Linked DNA regions of Homo sapiens: region 1 is linked to region 2. Evidence: fine-mapped expression QTL. A gene starts in region 2. The other region holds a variant in brackets. All regions are shown on one strand. Distances are from middle to middle.

Evidence for each region. PIP is the estimated chance that this variant, and not a neighbour inherited with it, causes the effect.
Region 1: its variant is the best candidate, but not a certain one, in a credible set for the expression of TBX2-AS1 in thyroid (GTEx, PIP 0.56).

Annotation. Positions count from the first base shown.
Region 1 is chr17:61,246,823-61,257,969 of GRCh38, reverse strand. All of the region lies in intron 22 of BCAS3 (BCAS3 microtubule associated cell migration factor), which reads right to left. Among named protein-coding and RNA genes, the nearest start is that of BCAS3-AS1, 120 kb to the right of the region's middle. The variant C/T (reference allele first, on the strand shown) is at 5,736.
Region 2 is chr17:61,394,132-61,405,278 of GRCh38, reverse strand. It overlaps TBX2-AS1 (TBX2 antisense RNA 1), which reads left to right and starts at 5,673. Exons shown (of 2, transcript NR_125751.1): 1 at 5,673-6,040. TBX2 (T-box transcription factor 2) reads right to left here and starts at 5,436. Exons shown (of 7, transcript NM_005994.4): 1 at 4,708-5,436; 2 at 3,328-3,595; 3 at 2,072-2,218; 4 at 782-858; 5 at 510-673; 6 at 1-77. The coding sequence starts at 5,102. RefSeq lists a cis regulatory region at 5,352-5,363, promoters at 5,352-5,599, 5,219-6,479 and an enhancer at 7,600-8,151.

The sequences.
Region 1 (11,147 bases), 150 kb after region 2:
TTCCCATGAGCAAAGAATTGATCTAAGAAAGAAGTGGGAGGTAAGAAAGAAAAGATCAGTTTGAACCAGAGTGAAAATGGGAAGGGAAATGTCTGTTTATGGATTCCTACTACTATTAAGCACTGTGTTTGTGTCACTGCATTTAATACTTGCAAGACCCCTTTGAGCTGGTTTACCATTCACATTTGTCTAGATGAAGAAACAAGCTAAGTGTAAGTCACACATTTATCACAGAGAAGAATCATATTTTGAATTATTTGATTGATCCCAAATTCCGTGTTCCTCCCTCTACATAATGTTACCTTAAACAAGACAATAATGAATTAAGATTTCTATTATTTGAAGATGCAGCACATCAAAGTTCTTGAGAAGAAAAGTATTTTAACATGACCAAAATATTTGCTATTTTGATATAAAGGAAGACTTTCTTGGGACCGCTAAAGTATTCCATTCAAAGGAAGGTGGCTTGGTAAAAGTATTCTTGAAGAAACGACTGAAGACATGGGTGGAATGCCAGAATTCTGCCTTTTTTTTTTTTTTTTTTTTTTTGAGATGGAGTCTCGCTCTGTCTCCCAGGTTGGAGTGCAGTGGTGTGATCAAGGCTCACTGCAACCTCCGCCTCCCAGGTTCACGCGATTCTTCTGCCTTAGCCTCCTGCGTAGCTGGGACTACAGGCGTGTGGCCACCACACCCAGCTAATTTTTGTATTATTAGTAGAGATGGGGTTTCACCATATTGGCCAGGCTGGTCTCAAACTCCTGACCTCGTGATCTGCCTGCCTCGGCCTCCCAAAGTGCTGGGGTTACAGGCGTGAGCCACCACGCCTGGCCAGTTCTGCCCTTTATTAGCAATGTGATTTTAGAGTTTCTTTCCCTAAGCCTTATCAGCAAAATGGACATGACAACACCGATCGCAAAGATTGAGATCTAAATGGAAATCATGTGAGCGGAAATGCTGTGTAAATAAAAAGCATAATGTAAATTTTTTTTTAAATCCAAAAATCTTGATTTTGGTAGAGAAAATACCTCAAAGAGAACCTAGGTTCACCTCCAAGGAATTACTCAGAGACTTATTTATATGCAGTACTAAGGTTCACCTTTTCTTGTAAGTGGCTCAAATACCATCTGCATGGGCTGGGGTTGAGGCCTGAGAAGATCACTTTGGGTCCTTGTGCCATGGCATACCAACAACCCTGAAAGCCTCAGGTTTCTTTTGAAATGATTATTTTTGTGTTACTCTGTCTCCAGTTTATCTCTGTATCCAAGGCTCTCTGGTGACACAATTCACTGGTTTCAAAGGCAGGAAGTGGGCAACAACCCTGGACACATAGCACTCCATGGACAAAGACACCTAAACAAAACCAAACGGCCAGGCGCGGTGGCTCACGCCTGTAATCCCAGCACTTTGGGAGGCCCAGGTGGGTGGATCACTTGAGGCCAGGAGTTTGAGACCGGCCTGGCAAACATGGCAAAACCCTGTCTCTACTAAAAATACAAAAATTAGCCAGGTATGGTGGCCCACGCCTGTAATCCCAGCTACTCAGGAGGCTGAGACAGGAGAATCACTTGAACCCCAGAGGCGGAGGTTGCAGTGAGCCTTGATCACACCGCTGCACTCCAGCCTGGGCGAGAGAGTGAAACTCTGCCTCAAAAAATAAAAATAAAATAAAATAAATAAAAATAAATGAAAAACAAACAAACAAACAAACAAACAAACAAAAACCAAACTACCTCTTGGCTTGAAGATGGAAGGCTTGACAACCCCAGGTAGTCTGATCTAAGTGAGGGTCATTTTGAAGGTAAATATAGTACTTTCATGTTAAAACAGAAACCTCAGTTACATAAAGCCATTGGCCCATTTCTCCTGATTACCAGTAGAGGCTGATGGAGGCTGGAAAACATTTATTAACTGAAAGGTTAAAAAAAATCAGAAAATAAATATGGTACAATTATGACTCGGAGTTTCAGAAAATAACTTGTCAGTTTGACGAGACTCAATTTTCAGGGGAAAAGAGAGCAGCATTTCCCATCTCTAAAGTCTAGGAGCAAATCTCTTCATAGTACTTGGTAAGAAAACCATCCACCTTGAAGTCCAGCCCCAGCCACTTCTTCAATTAGGTGTCACTCACTGAACATCTAAACAAACTGCCAGGACTTTACCACAAATAACTTAGGGAAAAGAAAGCTGTGATAAGGTTCTCCACAAGAGCAGCTACATCCGGAACCCTTTAGCACTAAAACCCTGCACAGTGTGGTCAAATGAAGAAATAGTCTAGGCTTCCAAAAGAATAAGAATTCTGATGGAGAAGTGTCACTCAATACAGACACGGCACTTAAGCCAACTACCCAGACAAAAGTACAAAGCCAAGTCTACTCTGATTTCAGCACTAACATTGATTCCACAGGGTGCAAAGATGTGCCCACTGTGTTTCTGGAGAAGGATGGATAGACTTAGGGGTATTGATGCGCTACAAAAGCCTCTGTCCCCTTGGTAGTCATACCAGTTTCCTGAGATACTCTCAAGACATCATCAAATTAAGAAGAAATGTAGGAAAGTGTGATGTGGAAACTAAAGAAGGTATATTCTGGAGATCTGGAGGCTGTAAGGGAAAGAAACTTGGGCACATTCATTTAATCTCTCTTCTTACCTTGTCGGGTGACCTGGAGATGAGGAGTTATGCTTGAGATCTTTTCTTTGGCAACTGGGAATGAGATTAGCTGGGAGAAATACTTTTGACAAGCACCAGAGAAGAGAAAACTTAACTCTCGGATAGAGATGTGGATGGAGAATTGGTTCCAATCTCTGGTAGTTCCAAAAAGAGCAACATGTGAAACTTCAATAAGTCATTGTGCTCTCCCTGTGACAATTACAGCTCTTTGAAAATCTGCCTTAGTGCCTTCAGAACAAATTGAGATTAATGAAACCAAAGTCCCAAAGAGGAAAATACCAGGAAAAAGAAAGTAGGATGACACAACAGGGCTGTTTCAATGTAACCAGGCAATGTCAGAATTTTAAAAATTTAAAAGGAAAAAGCTAAAATGTTCTCACTGAATTTCTAGTTGGTTTTTCCAGGTAATGGTTTTGTTGTTATTGTATTGTTCTTGGTCAGGATGAACGACTTTTCCAGCAATCATATACTATACTCACTGGGTATTTAAAGCAGTATAAATTTTCTAATCCTTTTTTTTTTTTCTGAGACGGAGTCTCACTCTGTCACCAGGCTGGAGTGCAGTGGCGCAATCTCGGCTCACTGCAACCTCCACCTCCCAGGTTCAAGTGATTCTCTTACCTCAGCCTCCTGAGTAGCTGGGACTACAGGCGCCCACCACCACGCCCAGCTAATTTTTGTATTTTTAGTAGAGAAGGGGTTTCACCATGTTGGCCAGGCTGGTCTCCATCTCTTGACCCTGTGATCCGCCCGCCACGGCCTCCCAAAGTGCCAGGATTACAGGCGTGAGCCACCGCGCCCCGCCATAAATTTTCTAATCTTAAAGTTGATCAAACATTTTAGCAAAACAGGAAAACTGACTTGACACTAGGGCAAAGGAGAGATAAGAACTCAAAGGAAAAAACAATTGAGGCATCAACTAAGAAAGTAATTTTACCTTCTAAATCAGTGAGCCTTGTATTAAGCAAAGAAATGTGCATGTCAGAGTTGTTTAAGCATTCTGAAAGCAAGCCCTCTTTACGGCAGAAGTGTTCTGTGAGGCCTGAAGGGACACTGCTGTGGGTGAGGCAGGAGCAGCCCAGCAGGGTTAAATCTCCTGAAGGTTTTAAATAAAAAACAAACATCCACTTAACTTTTATAGGGGATTGCTCTCTAATAATACCTAAGGAAGGAGGCCGGCTCTCTTGAGTTTTTTCCTCGGGCTTGTCTCCATGCTGACTGAGGAACCAGGTCAAAATGAGGGTTTTAAGTAGGGTCCCAGTGGGCCTGATGTAGAAGAAAGGCTAAAGGAATTTTAGATCTTATGAGTATTATCCTAAGGCTCTTTCTTCTCCAGTTTTCCTTTTATATGTAAATTAGACAAGAGAGCTCTACTCAATTACCAAGTAAGGCTAGCAAGACATAAGGCAAGTCACTTTTTCTTTCTGCGCTTCAGTTTTCCCCCATGTAAACCGTGGAGGCCGAACTGTAATGTATACTTAATCATCTCTAAAGTCTCTTTCAACTAAAACTATACAACAAAAATGGAAAGGCAAAACAAAGCAAAAACAACAATAACATTAAAATCCACCTCTGCACCTCTGTTCCACAGCTGGAATCTGAGCACAGGACTTTATGAAGCACTGGCCCAGAGGCATCCGAGATTCATCTTCCCCTCTACTCAGCTGCCCCTCCTCCAATCCTGGGTCTGACCTTCTACTACCATAGAGCTCATACGCCATGCCTAGGCCGTAGGCCAAGTTCCTGGGACTGCTGATGTAGCAACTGTAGAAATAGTAGTAGCAATAAGACAGATGATAGTATAATGCTAATAATACTATTATTAATGGGAATAGATAACATTATTGAGCCCTTATTCCATACCAGGCACTGTAAATGTTACACATGTTTATTCTATCAATCCTTGTAACTCTGTGAAGCAGACATTGATTATATATATATATATTCTCTCCAACTCCTGACCTCAGGTGATCCGCCTGCCTCGGCCTCCCAAAGTGTTGGGATTACAGGCGTGAGCCACCGGGCCCAGCCCAGGCATTGATATTATCTCCATTTTGTAGACAAGGAAACTGAGACTGAGACATAGAACAGTTAGGCAAGTAGTAGGAACAAATGGTATAGCAACGGGCCGGGCTCAGTGGCTCATGCCTGTAATCCCAGGCCTTTGGGAGGCCGAGGCAAGTGGATCACCTGAGGTCAGGAGTTCGAGACCAGCCTGGTCAACATGGTGGAACCCCATCCCTACTACAAAATACAAAATTAGGCATGGTAGCACATGCCTGTGATCCCAGCTACTTAGGAGGCTGAGGCAGGAGAATAGCTGGAACCCAGGAGGTGGAGGTTGCAGTGAGCTGAGATCACACCACTGCACTCCAGCCTGGGCAACAGAGTAAGACTCCATCTCAAAAAAAAAAAAAAAATGTATAGGAACAGATTACTGGACAGCTTTCTAGAGTCAAAATCCAAGGAAGAAAGGGCAGCTTAGCCCAGTGAGGTAGAAGCCAGTGTGTTTAGCAGACTAAGAGCTGACAGATATGGATTCCACAATTGGTTCTATCACTATGGTTGTAAGCAGGTCAATGTCCTTGTCTATAAGCAGAGGGCAGAGGATGAGATAACCTTTAAGGCCCTTTTCACCTCTGCCACTCTACATGAGGAACCATGTTCCATAAGGACTCAAGGACTCAGCAACTGTTTAATTCCCAGGCTTTTTTTTTTTTTAAGTCCTTCACTTCTATTTTAAAAACTTGCATGTTCCCGTGGCCCTGGAATGCCTGCCTCCGGCCCCTCTGGAGCCCTGGGTTATGTGAAAGCAGCCGTGCCAAGCTGGCCCATGGGCGGGGCTGAGTCTTCCTGGCTGGCTTGTGACATGTTCTTGACGTACTGTGTGGTCAAGAAGCTGGAACTGGGGGGGCTGAACAAGGGCCAAGCCTTGCACTTCAGCTTCCTGACCTGGCAGCCATTCAGAGAGACCCTGCTAAGTGCTATTTCCTAAATACACTCTCTTTTCATAACAATCTTACCACATTGCTTTCCTTTACAAGCGCTCTTAAAAAAGAGAACTGGA[C/T]TCCTTCTGGTTAATCTACACAGACTACATTTGGAAACCATCAGAAACTGAACTCTAAACAAAACGTTATTAATGTGTTGTAATCTGCCCTCTATGTTGCAGATGAAAAGAAAATGTTTTATAGTTTTGGAGCATACGTTTTAATTGCCTTTTAAGAGTGCATATACTTTTAGTACTTCGTGTTATAAAACTGTAGTATCTGTTTCTTGATAACTGTTGAGTGATCTCAGCTATTTTTATTAGTTTTTTTCTTTATCCTTTTCTCTCTTTTTCTTCTAAACTGCCACCCGTGTAAAGTTCCTTGAGATCAAGCTTGATAGAAGGCTCACATATTTGGGATCTTCATTATAAAGAGCTTCTTTACAACCTCCACCTCACTATAAAACACTTGTTCCTGAAAATGAGTTCTATAAACAAAGATGGAGTGGGTAGCTTTGTCTAATAATCCAGTATAGCTGGGAACCTAGCAGTCTAGCCTTTTCCCAGTTGCTATTGCTTTTTTATGGGGGCCAGATTATCTGCAGAGATCTGATGTTCTTGCTACTTTTCTCAACTGTACAGCCTTGTCCCAAGAGACCAACATATCAGTCATCAACCCAGAGGTCTCAAGGGCAGCATCTTGGATGGACCAGGATCCAGTCTTTCTTTTCTTTTTTTTTTTTTTGAGGTGGAGTTTCGCTCTTGTTGCCCAGGCTGGAGTGGAATGGCGCAATCTCGGCTCACTGCAACCTCTGCATCCCGCGTTCAAGTGATTCTCCTGCCTCAGCCTCCCTAGTAGTTGGGATTATAGGCGCCCGCCACCAGGCCCGGCTAATTTTTTGTATTTTTAGTAGAGACGGGGTTTCGCCATATTGGCCAGGATGGTCTCAAACTCTGACCTCAGGTGATCCGCCCGCCTCAGCCTCCCAGAGTGCTGGGATTACAGGCATGAGCCACCACACCCAGCCCAGTCTTTTTTTCAGCAAGGAATCCCAAATTCATTAGAATCAGGCCTTGAGTTAACAGACTCTCCACCAGCTTATCATCAGCCTGACAAATACTGTCTGGGACACCAGGCTGAGGCCTCCAATGTCTCACCTTCCAGCTGGGCAAGCACTGCCCAATTCTTGCACCAGTGATGTAAGACTGGCTCACAGGAAATGAAATGACCTTTCTGAATGAAGGGTTTCCTGGGGGCAGGGCTGGAGGGATGAGGGTGTTTCACCATCTGAATTCTTGGGGAGGAGGAAGTAGTAGAATTAGACACTGGTCTCCCAAGGGGTCCATAGTCTTAAGACCTCCCGCTCATGTGAAGTACCACAAAGGCACCCACAAGTCATAAAACCTTTCTGAGATTGTCTAATGTAGGATAATGTTCAAAAACCAGACTGATAGAGTCCTTGGGCCAGAAGGGCCCCATAAAGATTACCTGGTTGATCACTCGTTTTCAGGTGAGGAAGCTGAAGCCAAGGTGGGCAGTAACTCGCCCAAGGTCTCAGTCTACAAGTATCCAGAGCTCAGCTTAAAAAAGCCTGGTTTCTAGGTCACATACTCACAGCATGTACATGGGTTAGTAAAGGAGAGATCACTGAAAAGAATGCCTTTTAGCTGTCCGAAAACGGGAGACTGTGCCCCTTAATTTCAGTTTCTTTTTAGAGATAATCATCTTCCTTATCTCAAACATTAACTCAAATGTTTCTTATGATGTCTCCAGTGCTTCCCTAATGCCTTCATGACTCACTGGATATTACGGCTTGATACAGCACAGAGCAGTGCTCAGTTACAACCTTGGTTTCTAAAGCAACTCTTTAAAATGAAAAACAAGCCTTCTCTGGGTCCTCTTTCCATCTCGTACAATATATTGAAAATCCTTTCAATGGCTTAGCAGGTCCTATTTTCACAACATGTCAGAACTCACAAGTGTATGAAGAAGCCGTTGTTTATAAATCTTCTCATGTTTAAAATTACCAGGATTGGTAATTAGGTTTTCTTCCCTATCCTCCCTTTGGTAACCTTTTACTTCATATTTAGCACATTGCTGAGGGGGATAAACGATCTAGGAACACTGAGGTCTTATGTTTGTCAAATCATATGCAGACAATTATGAAGGCAAAGCTCTCTACTGGGCCCAGGGTATGAACTTTCCTTAAACTTCCACCAGACAAACCCAGGGCAAGGGGCCTGGTGTCTTCGACCTTCCTTATAGAAAAGCAGGGCCATTTCGTAACCTTCTCTAGTTTTACAATGGCTGCTCTTATTTGGTATCTTGTTTTCTGATCCTCTTTAAGCCTGCCTCATTCAATTTCTGATTTGTAAACTCTGGGGCAGGTGATATTTTAGTACCCTAAGAAATCATCTCAAAAGGGAGCTTTAAAAGCTTTAAATGTGATTGGGTCATCACATTTTTTTTGTATTCCATGGGTCTATCAGGTAGATAACAGAAAGTTTTTTCCCTTTTGACAGATAACAGATTAAGGTGTAGTAATTATCAAAATAATGGGCAGAGAGCAGCTACTTAAACATCCTTGGAAATAACTCCTGTGACCATGATTTCACAAGTATTTCTAAATAATTCTGAGCTTCCTAAAACAACACGAGAAAAAGAATTTTCCCTTAGATCAGTTAAGGGAAAACTCTTCCATTCTGTAGCTTTTGTATTGGCGTTCCTAAAACAAACTATTTCTTCAGCCAGAGACACAATTCTATGTTGGGACACTAGAGTCCATCTCTGCTGTTGAGATCTCTCTCCTTCAGATTTTAGCAATATAGTTTTGGGTGTGTTTCATGACCTTTTGTGCTAGCAAATAAGCCTTTGGAGGATTAAAATTAACTTTTCTCATCCTAGTTTAAGGAGTGCTCTGCTCTGGGAACATCAAAAAAAGGCACAGGCCTGAACTGAGCCAAATACCCACTCTAGCAGTGCTGGTATTATTTTCAAGTTTCTATTTTATTTTATTTATTTATTTTTGAGATGGAGTTTCACTCTTGTTGCCCAGGCTGGAGTGCAGTGGTGTGATCTCGGCTCACTGCAGCCTCTGCCTCCTGGGTTCAAGTGATTCTCCTGCCTCAGCCTCCCGAGTAGCTGGGATTACAGGCACCCGCCACCATTCCCGGCTAATTTTTTGTATTTTTAGTAGAGATGGGGTTTCACCATGTTGGCCAGGCTGGTCTCAAACTCCTCACCTCAGGGGATCTACCTGCCTCGGCCTCCCAAAGTTCTGGGATTACAGGCGTGAGCCACCAAGCCCAGCCAAGTTTCTTATTTTAAAAACAAATTTTTGCAGGAATAGTAGAATACACAGGAAAAGAATATATATTCATCTAAACAACGTCTTATCTTTAAGAGCAAAGAAGAAGGAAGTTTTATAAGTATTTGACAGTATACTACTTCTTTAAGATACTCCAAGTGGTTTGAAGTGTAAAAGGTGAATATACTGCTTCAAACCTCTTGACCTACAGGTCTAAAATAGTCGCTCATCTTGTCCTATGTGTCCTAGTACAGACTAAATAGAATATTCAAAGAAGTCCTGGTATCATTTGTGTTAGGGGCCTTAAAAATCAGGCTATCAGGGTTGGTCATCTGCCACAAAGCTGGCTAAATTCCCACCATGATACACTTCTGAAATAACCATTCAGGACTGAGGTCACTGCTACTTCCTCCCTGCTGAGGAAGCACAAACCAGACAAATTCTCACCAGATGGACTTTGCACTCTAATCTTGTATATTACCCCTCCTCCCAAGGCCCAAGGCTCTCTGGGAATTCATGCCAGGCTGGGACTTAGACCTTCAACTGCCAGTATCTTTACGAGTTGTTTTCTTTGAAAGACCTGAGAAATGGGTTGCAATAATCATAGGAATGGTCCTTTAGATTTTCTTTTTGGAATTTTTTAAAGTAGTATCAGCCACAATTCACAAATATATTCCTTTACCCAAGACAGAAAACATAGAGACAAATTATGTTAAACCATCCAATCCAACTCAGAAGAAAAAATCAGGCCTTTATGTGCTCCAGTCTTCAGAAGGACTCAAATAGGGTACCACCTACAAAAGAGATAGGATCAGAAGAAGTTCCCTTGGTGGCTTTGTTGGGGAAAGGATCCAAGAAGTGCTCAGAAAAGCAGAAAGCTCTCCAAAAGAAGCTAATTCAAAAGAGATTTCCAAGTCAACATCCAAACCAAAGAGATGTGGAAAAATTCAGAAAAGCATCCTAACAAAACATCCCAACAAAGTACCCCAACTCCTTTTTGTAAACCCACAACTGGTAGGAACAAAGTTCCAATGTGACAGCCTTTCAATGCCGCAAGTTGTAACCACAAGTGCGGCTGCTCTTCTAACATTATTTTCTTTGGGAAAATTACATGGGTGGGTAGGGAAGCAAACCCAAGAGGACTGCAGTTTACAAGGCCTGAGGCCTGGTTGGTGAGATCCAAGGAACCTAGAGGCGGGGGCCTGATGGTAGATAGGAGAAAACTAAGCTGATTGCACAAAAGGGCTAAGATCTCCAGCCACTCATCAGGTAGAGTATGCTGCTCTCTACTTGCAAAACTGCTTAATAAAATTTTACTGCCAAGTCAAAAGAAGAAACATCTGCTGTAGTCAAGAGCAGCTGTGGTCGGCAATAAGGGACTTGGCACATGGTCAATGCTGCTCTTGCTGGTAGGTGGTATTGTGGTCACCAGTAATTACTTTGGAGAATTTCATGGAGTCAAGGATAACTAAATGGACAAAGAACATTTTATTTTACTTTCTATCTTTAGCCCAAGAGCAAAAATCGTGACATGTACAGAATTCAGAAGCCCAATGAATCCATACTTTTTGTGGCAGAACTTTTTACCTCAAAGACTAGAAATACTTAAATATAAGTATTTTAAACAATATATTTTTGATAAGTGACCTCTCCACTCATTATTTCTGATTGAACGGTTCCTGAAGATTATACTAGTTTTCAAGTGTTTTCCTTCTGAAAGATGTATTATAGAATACTATAAGAAAAATGTGAAAATTATACTTAGCAAATCAATAAATGGTTCAGGTTTTTAAAAACCTCATCTTTATCAAATTTGCATGCTATCGTCAAAGTTAAATAACTTTACATTGAGTAGGAATTGGAGTGTAAATAAAAGTCTGATGTATTCATCTGTGATAATTTCTCATGGAATGATGAATGTCAGAAAGTAGCAGTGAAATTAATATACACTGTACTTAAAAAATTAAACACTTGGGAAATAACCCTTTGAGCCACTGGAAAATGATAAAGTCTAAGACATTTCAATCAAGTTAATTTCGGTACTAAAGCAATGCATTTTTCCCACCAGAAACTATATGAAAAAACAAATTAAACAAAATGGGTCTCCGAATGATGGGATAACATCAGGCTCATGGAAAACATCATGATTGCTTTGTCAATTAGGTTATCACACACATACACACAC
Region 2 (11,147 bases):
TAGCGGCGCCCCCGCACGCTCCTCGCTCAACCGCTCAGGCTCCGGGTCGCTGTCCGCGGCGCACGACTTCTCCTCAGCTGCGGGGAGAGGGCGCGCGGATTACAGGGGCCTGGGCGGAGGCCGACGAGCAGGATCAGGGACACTCGGGAAGGGCTGCTCTCGGGGAGGCCGAGTCGGAGGAGCTGCTGGAGTCGGGCAAAGGGCAGCTGCAGGTCACCTAATCCAAGACCCCAGATTTACAGTGGAAGGAACCCAGCCCTGGAGAGGAAACCCTACAGCTATAGAATTACACGGCGCCCAAGGGGCCAGGCTCGGAGTCCGGCCGGATCTTCTGGCTACCGGGGACCGCCCTCGTAGGGGAGTCCCGGGACGGAAACCCCATCCCAGACACTCGCCGACGTTTCCTTCCTGGCCTTTCAGGTTAGCGGGTGGCTCAGCAAAAGACCAGCCCAGCGACCTGAGGACCCCCCGCCGCCACCTCCCTGTCCCTCCTCCGGTCCGACCCTCACCTCGGGCCCGGTGCAGGCGCAGCGGACTGGGCGCTGCGCCCGGGGAGGTGGGTGGTTCCCGCGCGGGGGGAGGGTCGCACGACGAGGCGTCTGACTCCGCGCCATCGCGCTCGGGTTTGCAGTGCTCCTCGTACAAGCGTAGAGACGGCAGCGTCAGCTGCTTCCTGGGGATGAGCGGATGAACCAGGTCAGCGGGGAGCCCATCCCTCCATCCCTCCTGCTCGCTGCTCCCGCGGGCACCCGCCACAGGGCTGCTGTCCTCGGCCTCTCACCTTTTCTCCCGCCGGCCGTTCCCGGTGTCCCGGAAGCCCTTGGCAAACGGGTTGTTGTCGATCTTCAGCTGTGTGATCTGCGGGGACCAAGGGGGCGGCGCTAAGTCAGGCCGTGGCTCTTCCAGCGTGGTCGGTGGCACCCCGAGGTCAGCGGGTGCTGGCCGCAGAGGGAAGACCCGGGGAGCGTCCACTTGGTACCCACCCGCCTGGGATGGGACGCCCCGAGCTGAGGCCGGTGGGAGGGCCTCGCGGAAAGCGACGGGGTCTGTCCTCCAAAAGCTTCATTCGAGGAATTATCCCTAGACAGGCCTAGACAGCCCCACACAGGCCTAAAGCAGTGCCACAGTGTCGGAACCAGCCCAAGCATGCACACCCGCCCGCGGGCTTGCGCAAGTTAAACGACTCCGCACCCGAGCAGGCGCGAACAGAGACTGCAGTTCACACGCAAGGCTGCAGGTACACACAAAGCCAAATCACACTCACGGGCTCGCACACACGCAAGTGTGCACAGACATAACAAACGCCTACGGAACCAAACGAATTCACATGCCTCCACAGGTATCCAACACACCCCAAACGGGGCACGCACAGCCCAGCGTACACCTTGGTTCACAAAGCCACAACGACCGGCACGGACACTCGTACCCTCTCTTTCACTCGACAGTGGCGCACAAGGGCACAGGCCTAGAGGGGTGATGCTCTGCCCCACTAGAACAAGGGTGGAGAAGCCGCAAGCAGAAAAAGCCCTTTGATTGGAAGGTAATTCTCTAAGCGCCTCCCAAGGGGTCTGGGGCCTAGACTGACCCAGAGCAGTAGCCAGGAGTGCTTTGGGGGGCTGTGTCACCTGTCCCACCCTCTGGCTCCCCCCGAGAGAGTGAAAACTGGGCCCCGGGTTCTGAGCATCGGTAGAGCCTGGGCAGATTGCCTCGGGCGCCCTCTCTTCACTTACATTCTCATTCCTGAGCCAAGAAATAAACGAATAAAATGTAAAAATGTCAGCGCGGGCCCGGAGTCTCAGCTAATTGTTAAGTAAACATCTCCATCAGAACGACGGCCCAGCTGTTCGCTCGCCCCAGGGGAGCCTGTGTGTGCGCGCGGTGGGATTGAGAGGGCGCCTTGAGGACTTCCGTGAGTGCTGCGCGTATGGATGCGAGGCTCGGTGCTCGGGGGCGGGCCGCAAGAGCGCGGATCCCGTGCAGGGGGCTTCGAGGGGCGATGAACGGACGGTTGGGCCTGCACGTGTTGAGGGGCGTCAGTGCAGGGGCTTAGCCCACCGCCCGCCGCGCGCACCTTGTCATTCTGGTAGGCAGTGACGGCGATGAAGTCGGTCTCCGGGAACACGTAGGTGCGGAAGGTGCTGTAAGGCAGCTTCAGGATGTCGTTGGCTCGCACTATGTGGAAGCGCGGCTGGTACTTGTGCATGGAGTTTAGGATGGTCTGCGGGGAGGGTGGGGGTCAGCCGGCAGCCACCAGCCCCGGCCCGAGCTTTTCTATTCTTTGGGTACCTGACCTCTTCCTCTCCACTTTCTCTCTCTCTCTCTCTCTCTCTCTCTCTCTCTCTCTCTCTATCGGTTCTTCCTCTTCCCCATTTTCTCCTGTCTCTGCTCTTTTCTCACCCTTATTTCTTTTTCTTCTACTTTTCCTCTCGCTTTTCTCTTTTCACAGCTTCTTTTTCTCTTGCCATTAAAAAAAATTTCCCAGTTGGAAACAGAAATGAGACAGAGCAAAAACAAAACAAAACAAAAAACAAAACAAAAAAACCAACCAAAAAACAACCCCTCCCCACAAAAGAAACCCAAACAAAATAAAACAAAACAGAGCCCTACAATTCCACTCTTAACACTCTCTTCCTTTCTGGCACTGGTAAACCCCCTAACCCCACAAAGAGGAGATTCCAACCTTCGGGGGCTCACCAACTGCCCTACCTCAGAATGGGCAGTTCCTTTTACCCTATGAAACACCACCCCCGTTCGCTGGGGCCTTGCTCAGGCATAAATGGAGAGAACCCCCAAACCCTCTCCTCCTAGTTGGGCATCTGCCTGTGGGAGGAGGGAAAGGTCTTAGGGAGGCTGGGGGGGTGGGTGGGGAGGGTGGTTTAACTTTTAAATCCCCTAGTCTTGGGGGAGGGCCAGGGACGCGGGTCTTGGCAGAAGGGTGATGGACAAGTTGAGGTCATGGGCAGGTCTTCCAAGCTCGGCACCTACAGGCCAAGAGCAGGGTGACCTCCGTGGTCCAGCACTGCAGACCCAGTCCTGGCAGCACCTGCCTCCCTATTGACGGTACAAGGGACCCTCCACGGCCTGAGGAACTGAGATTGTGAGCTGCCAGCCACTGACCCCACCATTTCCCAGGCTTGCAAAGGAGAGCGCTGGGGCCCAGGCCCAGGCCCAGCCCACGTAGACCACAGGGCAGTGACCCGGGCAGGGGCACTCTGGGGGTTTGCCCAGCGCTTCCCCCTGGGAGATCCTGCCGCCCTGCTCTCCTGCTCAGCTGCAGTGCTGGGTCAACAAGCTCCTGCACCGTCCCCACCCTGCCCCAACACTCACGAAGCCGTGCTTGTCAGAGATGTTGTTGGTCAGCTTCAGCTTGTGGAAGGCCACAGGCTTAGCCATCCACTGCTCCCCCGTGGCTGGGCTGTCTGGGTGGATGTACATGCGTTTGGGCATCTCAGGGTCGGCCTTGCCCGCCACCATCCAGCGCGAGTTGTGGAACTTATAGCGGCAATCGTCAGCGGCTACAATGTCCATCAGCAGGATATACTTGGCCTTCTTGTCCAGGCCGCTGACTCGCACCTTGAAGGGGGGGAACATCCGCCTGGGAGGGAGGGAAGGGAGGAGATCCCATTGGAACCGGCTGTTCTAGGTTCCAGGACCCCACTCCTCCTTTATTTATCCCTCCTCGTTGCGCACACCGCTGCCGCCTGGCTGTTTCCCCTGTGGTCGGCTGCTCTGCCCTCTCATCACTGCCCGGACGACCCCACCTGTGGTTGTTGCTCCCAGGAGATCCCATTTCTGCCTGTCAGACCCTCTCCTAAACAGCCTCCTTTAGGCCTTGTGCTCAGATCTGGGGACCCTCTTTCTCCCTGATCTGAGATGAAAGCTGATGCCCAGGAGAGAAGTCTAGGCCCTCTAGAAATATTCTCGCTTCTCCTTAATCTCCCCGAAATTCGTTCAGGGGAAATACCCACTTGGGACGGAAGCTCCCAGAAATAAATCTGGAGGGTGTTTGTATTGGGAACTGGGCTACAGAGCCTGATAAGACATCCTGGCCGTGCAGTTCGGGGGAAGAGGGTGAACCCGAGGCCTGGATTCTCGGTGGCTGAGTCGAAGGGTGGAGGGGCCGGGGCTGTGGCTTTCTTCAGGCTTTAAGGCCTGGGGCGGCGGATGCGTCCAGGGCTCGGATGCCCGCGGTGGAGAAAGGGCTCCCAGCCCGGTGAGGCGGAGGGCTCGGCTGACCCGGGGCTCGCTGCCAGGAACCGAGCAACCAGCGTGGGGTTAGCTGGGCCCAGGTCCCACTAGGGGCTTCGGGGTCGGAGCAGAGTCTGAGAGAGGCTGAATTTCCCCCGAGCTCGGAGACGGACCCGGACGCAGAAGAGCGAGAGCGCGGGGCGGAGGAGACCGCCAGGGCCAAGCCGCGGGGCCTCCTCTGCGCTGGGACTCAGAACGGTTGGGGCTATTCTTTAGCAGTATGTTTTCGTTTTATTTCATTCGGAGGATTTTAGCGTTTTTGTTTTAAAAAAAAATCGCTCCGGTGCCAAACGAGAAAAGTCAACTTGGTTGTCCGTGGGAGCGAAGCGTGGCGTCAGGGCCAGAACCTGGAGCCGGGAGCCGGGAGCCGGGAGTCCCCAGCTCTGCTCTGATCCGTGCAGTCCCGTGCCCCAGCCCGCCCGCCCGCCCGCGCGCCTTCCAGCCGGCCGGCAGCCCTACCTCCCGGACTTGGTGATGACCATCTCCGTGCCTAGCTTGTGGAACTGGTCCCACAGCTCCTTGGCCTCCAGCGTCACCTTGGGGTCGTCCTCCACCTCGTCCTCGGGCTCCAGGCTCTTGAGGGAGCGCAGATGCGCGGCGGGCGGGTGCGGGCCCAGTGCCGAGACGTGCAGCCCCGCCTCGGCCGCTGCTGCCGCCGCCGCCGCCGCGGCCGCCGCCCCCGCCAGGCCCGGGTCGGGCAGCGGCTTGGCCAGCGCGCCGGGCGGCAGCGCGAGTGCCGGGAAGAAGGAGGGCTGCGCCGCCGCCAGAAAGGCGGACATGGGGAAGTCGGCGGGCCGTGGCGCGTGGAACGGGTGGTAAGCCATGGCGCTGGCCGCCAGCGCCGGCTCTCTCATCGGGACATCCGGCCCAGGCGCCCGGGGGCCGGGGCCGGGGCCGGGGGCGCGCGGCTCGGACCCCCGGCCCGGGCGGCGGCGCGCGCGGTGGACGGACGACCCGGGTGGCGGGCGCAGCAGCTGCTCCTCGGGGCTTCCCGTCCGGCGCACCGCAAGGGGCACCCGGCTCTGTGCGCGGGGGCGGCGGGGGCTCTGCGCGGGGCCGGGCTGGGCCGGGCTGAGCTGGCCCGCTCCGGCGCCGGGGACCACGCGCGACTGGTTAGATCTTGTCGTGATCTCTGGAAAACTGTGACTATCTCACATGTCCTGCCCAGCTCGGATCCCCTGCGCTAACGAGCCAGGCCCCCCTTGATTGCTGATTTTACGCTTTTTGGACCAATTGTGGGTCTCCGGGGGCGGGGTTTTGACAGCTCAGGCCAAGCTCCGGCCGGGAGGGGGGGCCTGGGAGAAGGTGTCGGAAGCCTCAGCAGTAAGAAAACATGTCAACAGAATAAAATATTAACCAATGACGGGCCGCCGGGCCCCGAGACCCCTCCTCCTGCCCCGGCCCCCACCGCCCGCCCGCGCCTGCGGCTGCCTGCGCCGGACTGGAGAGCGCGGAGGGCCGACCTGACCCGCCGAAAGGGCCTGAGGCGAGGGGAGCCCGGGTCCCGGGGCCTTGGGGAAGGACCCGCAGCCGCACGCCGGCCCCAAGTGCAAAGCATTGACACGACCCCGAGCGGAGAGGGGGCGCCCTCCTTCTCCCGCGCCCAGAGGCCCGGCCGCTCTGGCCCGAGCCCCAGCCTGGCCTCCGACCCAGCTCCGGGTCGTGGCGCCGCCTGGGGGTCCCTGCGCCCCGGAAAGAGACAGCAGGCACTGGAAAGCGAGGCCGGTGGGCGGGCGAGTCGGGAGGCTCGGGCGGCCGAGGTCCGGGAGCGGATCCCAGGTGGCGGGAGCTGGTGAGTGGAGCCATGGCCGAGCCCTGCTGGGGCCGGCGCGGGCGGGAGCGGGACGCGGCCTTGCGCTGGGGAAACGCGGGGACCCCCTACCCGCGCCCGCCTTCACCGGAAGACTCGGAAGGAACCTGGAGTTCTCCGCAGGCCCGGGCCCCGCCCTGAGCTTTCCAGCGGCCGGGAGGAGCGGATCCTCGGGGCCAGGAAGGTGAGCGCACCTTTCGCTGAGCACAGGGCGGCACCGCGCGGGCGGACCCCGGATTCTCCACCCGCGACCCAACGAATTTTCGCCCTATCCGGTACCGGAGACGAAAGTCTCCTTCTTCCGAAATACCGGCTTCCTCTCTTCGCCCTGCCAACCACTTTTTTAGTTTCTTCTCATCTCTCGGAAGCGCACGTCTCCTAAGTTAAGGAGTGCTGAGTAACGCGTGAGGGAGTTGGGGTGTCTGCGAGCACCTGTGATTGAAGCCCCCTCTTCTGTGATCAGTCTTCGTTTTCTGTCTTCCGGCAGCCTCAGTTTCCCCCCCATGAAGTGATGGTGTGTGTGTGTGTGTGTGTGTGTGTGTGTGTGTGTGTGTGTGTGTCGGGCCCCGTGTGGTGCCCTCTGTGCGCAGCGAGAGCTATAACTCAAGGTGTGCACGGGGAGAGTGAAGCGACCACGCACCTGCTTCCAATCGGGCTCGGGCGCGAACACTCAGGCTGATTCCTGAAGGTCGTTTTCTGAAGGAAAAGACAGAGCATGCACTAGCCACGGGTGACATTCCCACCCGTACAACCGCGTGGTGGGCGCGTACATCCAACATTGACCCATGCAGGCGCCCGCCCACTGCGCACACCGGTCGCAGGGCACTTCGTTGTTGAACGTTGGGAGCAGCGTTTGAAGGCCGGATCTCTCCTGGCAGTGCGGATTCGGGACCGGCGGAAGCAGTATGGCCTCTGCGACCGTTATCCCTACTTTTCGGGGCCGACCCCAGGGCCCTCACAACTCCTCATCACCGCATATGTGAGCGCCGCCCCCACAGGGTTTTCTCCACGACCTCGTTCTTGGCTAGGTCGCACCTCTCTTAGTACCTCCTCTCTGGCCAGAACGAATCTTTGACTCCGAGCTGCGCAGTCTACGCAGACGGGGCAGGATCCACTGCAGTTTTCCACAGGCAAATACCTGCTGGCTCCACCTTAGGCGAGATGTGGCCTCTCGGGGAGGGACCCGTTGTGGACACGTTTGCGCAGCCGGTGAGGTGACCAGATAATAACCAGGGCAGCTTTCCTTAGCCGGGAACCCAGGTACCGGCCTAGGAATCCGTGAATACATTCGCAAAGTCGCGCGCGCGCGCGCGCGCGTGTGTGTGTGTGTGTGTGTGTGTGTGTGTGTAGACACATACTTTTGTCCTTGTAAGAGTATGTGTACATCTAAATGTGTGCGTTTTAGACATTAGTCCATTTCATTAGTCCATCCATAGCTGGTCCAGGGGTCCGAGGCCTGAAGAGTTTGAAACACTCAGGCCTGGGTTATTTGACCGAGAAACCTGGCGGCGACAGTGCAGCGGCTGCATCTGGGGACGGCGACCCCACCTACAGTGGCACCGACCTTCCCTCTGGCTTTCCGGGGCTCTGTCCGGGCCAGGATCCCACCACTCGCCCCGCCCCGCGGTCCCGCGATCACCCTGAGGTCCTGCTGCAGCCGCTCTGAAGAGTCTGTAGCGACCCCCAGCCAAACTCTCCAGCTAGGAATGCCCGAGGCTCACCGAAAGCTGGCGCTGGGGAGGCCTGGGAGGCCCTGGAGCGGCGCCGTGAGGCCTCCGCTGGGCCCCTCCCCCACCTAGGCCGGCCCCCTCCCCCTTCCCAGGAACCCCCTCCCCTGGCGGAGCCCCGGGGGCCGAGTGTGCGTGTTCCTTTAAGAGGCCCCGGGGGGCGCCTCGCGGGCCGCCCGGGGCTGGAGGGGGAGGGCGCGGGCGGGGGCGGCTGGCGCCAGGCGGCCGAGGCTCCACAACAAAGCTCCGGCCCCTGTCACTTCGCATCGGCCAGGTCCCGCAGACAGGCGGGGGACGCGCGCTCGGCCGCCCCTCCCTCTCGCAGGCGGTCTCCGGCCAGGGCGTCGGGCGGGCTTGGGCTGGTGGCGCGCGGTCTGTGCGCCCCGCGCTTCCCGCAACAGTGAAATGGGGCGGGAGCGGGGACGGCCTGGGCCGGGTGGGGCCGCGGTCCTGAGCCTGGCGTGGCTGCCCTTCCGTCCTCCGGCCCCGTCACCTCTCGCAGGGTTAAGGGGCACTGCTGGGACCTTCCCCGGGTTGAGCCTCCAGGTGGCAGGGGGTCCCCGCCGCTTCCTCCTCTGTGTGCAGGGCCGGGGTTGCGTGACCCCGCGGGCAGTGGGCAGCAGGAAGCTCGGGCTGTGCGGCCGCGTGGCAGAGCGGACGACGGACTTGCGTCCGAGTGACGGGGCGCGGGCTGCAGACTGGCTTAAGCCCTCGGTGGCAGACGAATGTGCCCAGGCTAAGCTCAGGGGACGTGTGTGGCCCCGTGCTATGGGCCCGCTGTGAGGGTGCCGCCAGGCCGTCGATCACTGCCTGGACGTGAGGAGTGTGGTGGTGAAGGACACTCCCTGGACAGAGTCGCTTCCCATCACGGCTTCCCCGCCGGACCGCACCTCCCGGAGCCCTGGCGCCAGCCAGCCCGGTTTAGCGGCCGGACCGGGCTCCCCCGCGGTCCCAGGTCTGGTTGGGGTGGGGGCCGCGGCCTCGGTGACCCCAGCCCGCAGCGGCCCGGCCCGTCCCGTCCACTTAAACAAATTGCCGCTGACAGGCGCGCAGTCTCTCTGGAGCCGCCGCCCTCCCGTCGCCTCCCTCCCGTCCCAATTATCCCGCGCAGGGTGGGGCCAACTGGCTGGGATGGGGCGGGGGACGCGGGGAGAGCGGGCGGCTCGACTCCCTCCTGGTCGCGGGGTGGCCCGGGGAAGCGTCTCCGCAGCCACGGCCTGTGTGGCCCCGTCCCTGGTCTTCCCGGGGGATGCGAGGGCAAGGCCCAGCCTGGCAGCTGTGGGCCCTGGAAGGGCGTCGTTCTGCACCTAAGGGCGAGATCACGCGGCCGAGAACCAAGGCCGCATCCCGGATGGACTTCGGGTGACTTTCCCGGAGTTCTGGGGAATCCCCTAACCCGGGGAGCTGCAGACGACTCACTGGCCCCGGGCCGCGGTTCCGCGGGTGGCCGCTGTACGCTTGAGACACCTGGTCCGCAGAAGTCAGGTGCACGTCTGTGCACCGTCGTGCGTTGGATGTGCATGGAGGCGAGATCGTGGTTATGGATGTCTGGGATCACGGGAGCGTGAACGGGGCGATCGACTGAGTGACTTGAGAGACGGGGTAGAGCGCAGGAAGGACCCCTAGGACGGGCCCACCTGCGACGGGCGGCGGTGGGGGAGTGGGGGGCTTGCCGGCGCGTTCACAGGCTCTGGGTTCGCGTTCGGAAACGCTTTCGCAGGGAGCGGGTCGGGATTCCCCGGAGCAGCACGGTGACGGCGTGCCACAATCCGGGCTCCAGCTGTGCCGCCTCCGCCCTCCCCATCCCTGCTAAGGGGCACCTGGCCTGGCTGTCAACTTCCCCTCGAACCATGGGTTTGCCTTGTGGACCCGCAGCTTCCCCTCTGCCTGCTTCTGCTCTGTCGCGCCTTCGGAAGGGCATGCTGCTCTCTCCCCTCCACTCCCTCCTTTACACATGAGGACCCTGAATCCCAGAGGTGCAGTCATGTACCCAAGGCCACGTACCTGCTGGTGGCAGAGCTGGGATGGGACCCTGGGACCTTAAAGAGAGCAAGTCCAAACCCACTCCTAAGAAGCCGGTGCTGCTGAGCTGCCTACCCCTGCTCCTACAGCAAGGTGATCCTGAGATGCCAGGGCTGCCACCCTCCCCTGGGCTCTTGCTCTGAATTCGAGACATACAGGATGCACTGTCCCTTTGCCTCTAGAGCCTCCAGTTCTAGGTCTGCAGTGGGAGGGCTGCCTTCCAGCTACACAGGGGCAAGGGAGCAGCTGCAAATTCAGTCTCTCAGCCCAGGCAGGAAGCCTGATGGAGTCAGGATGGGGATCAGTGGGGTCAGCATTCTGGATGGGATAGGGGCACAGGACAGGGAGGTCAGTTCGGATTTGGGTCCCTCTAAGGGAACTGGCCAGGGTGTGAAGCAGCCAGGTGCAGACAGGGATAGGCTCACTAGGCGTGTGACTTTGTGACCTTGGGCAAGGCCCTGCCCTTCTCTGGGGCTCAGGCTTGCTTGTCATCTGCAAAAAAAATGAGGCTCGAACAGAACTCTCAGGTACTTTCTAGTTTCATGAGTCCCTGAATTGTGAAAATAAAAAATTACCACTGAGAAACCATATACACTTCCAGACTGGTGGCTGCCTAGCCTGGCCTCTGCTCCTTGACAGAGGGGCTGGCCCTGGTGTTTGAGCTTGTGTGCTTGAATTGGCCTCAGGCCCACCGTGCCTTTTCTCATCTCAGACAGTACTCTTGCTCCTTCAGTTGCCACGCTGGCTCCCACCGGCCTCTTTCCAGATCATGAAGGTATTTTTCCTTCATCAAATTGAGAGGAAGTCCGTAGTAAAGCTGCCCGTTGACCAGGTAGTGCCGAGAGAATCGGTAGGTCACATGGATTCCTAAAGGTCCCCTGATCAGCCACAGTTTGATTCATGTTCTGATGCCCTCCCAGATGATGCCACCATTAGGTCTGCTGGGGCTGGGGGTGAGTCCCAGATTGCCCTGGATGTTATCTGTAGAGGATAGGAAGCGGCTGCTCTGGGGCCAGTGGCCAGTAAGGTCCCCAACCCTGGGGCCCAGCTCTCCCTTCCAGCTGATTACAGGCTATGGCAGGCTCCATAACCTCCCCAATTAGCCGGAGGCCAGGCCCAAGGCCTTTCTGATAACCTGAGCTCCAGTGGCAGCCGCTGTGGGGCCAGCTTATCTGGTCTCTCTTATCCTCACCCTTCCCCCACATACTCAAAGAGTTGCCCTGACTTCAAGCAGATGAATAACCAGATTGTCCTGCAAGCTCAGCCGGCAAGTCCAGCCCTACACCCACCACTTTCCCTGCCTGGGGGAGGCCACAGCTGTTTTGCCCCTGCTGGAGGGG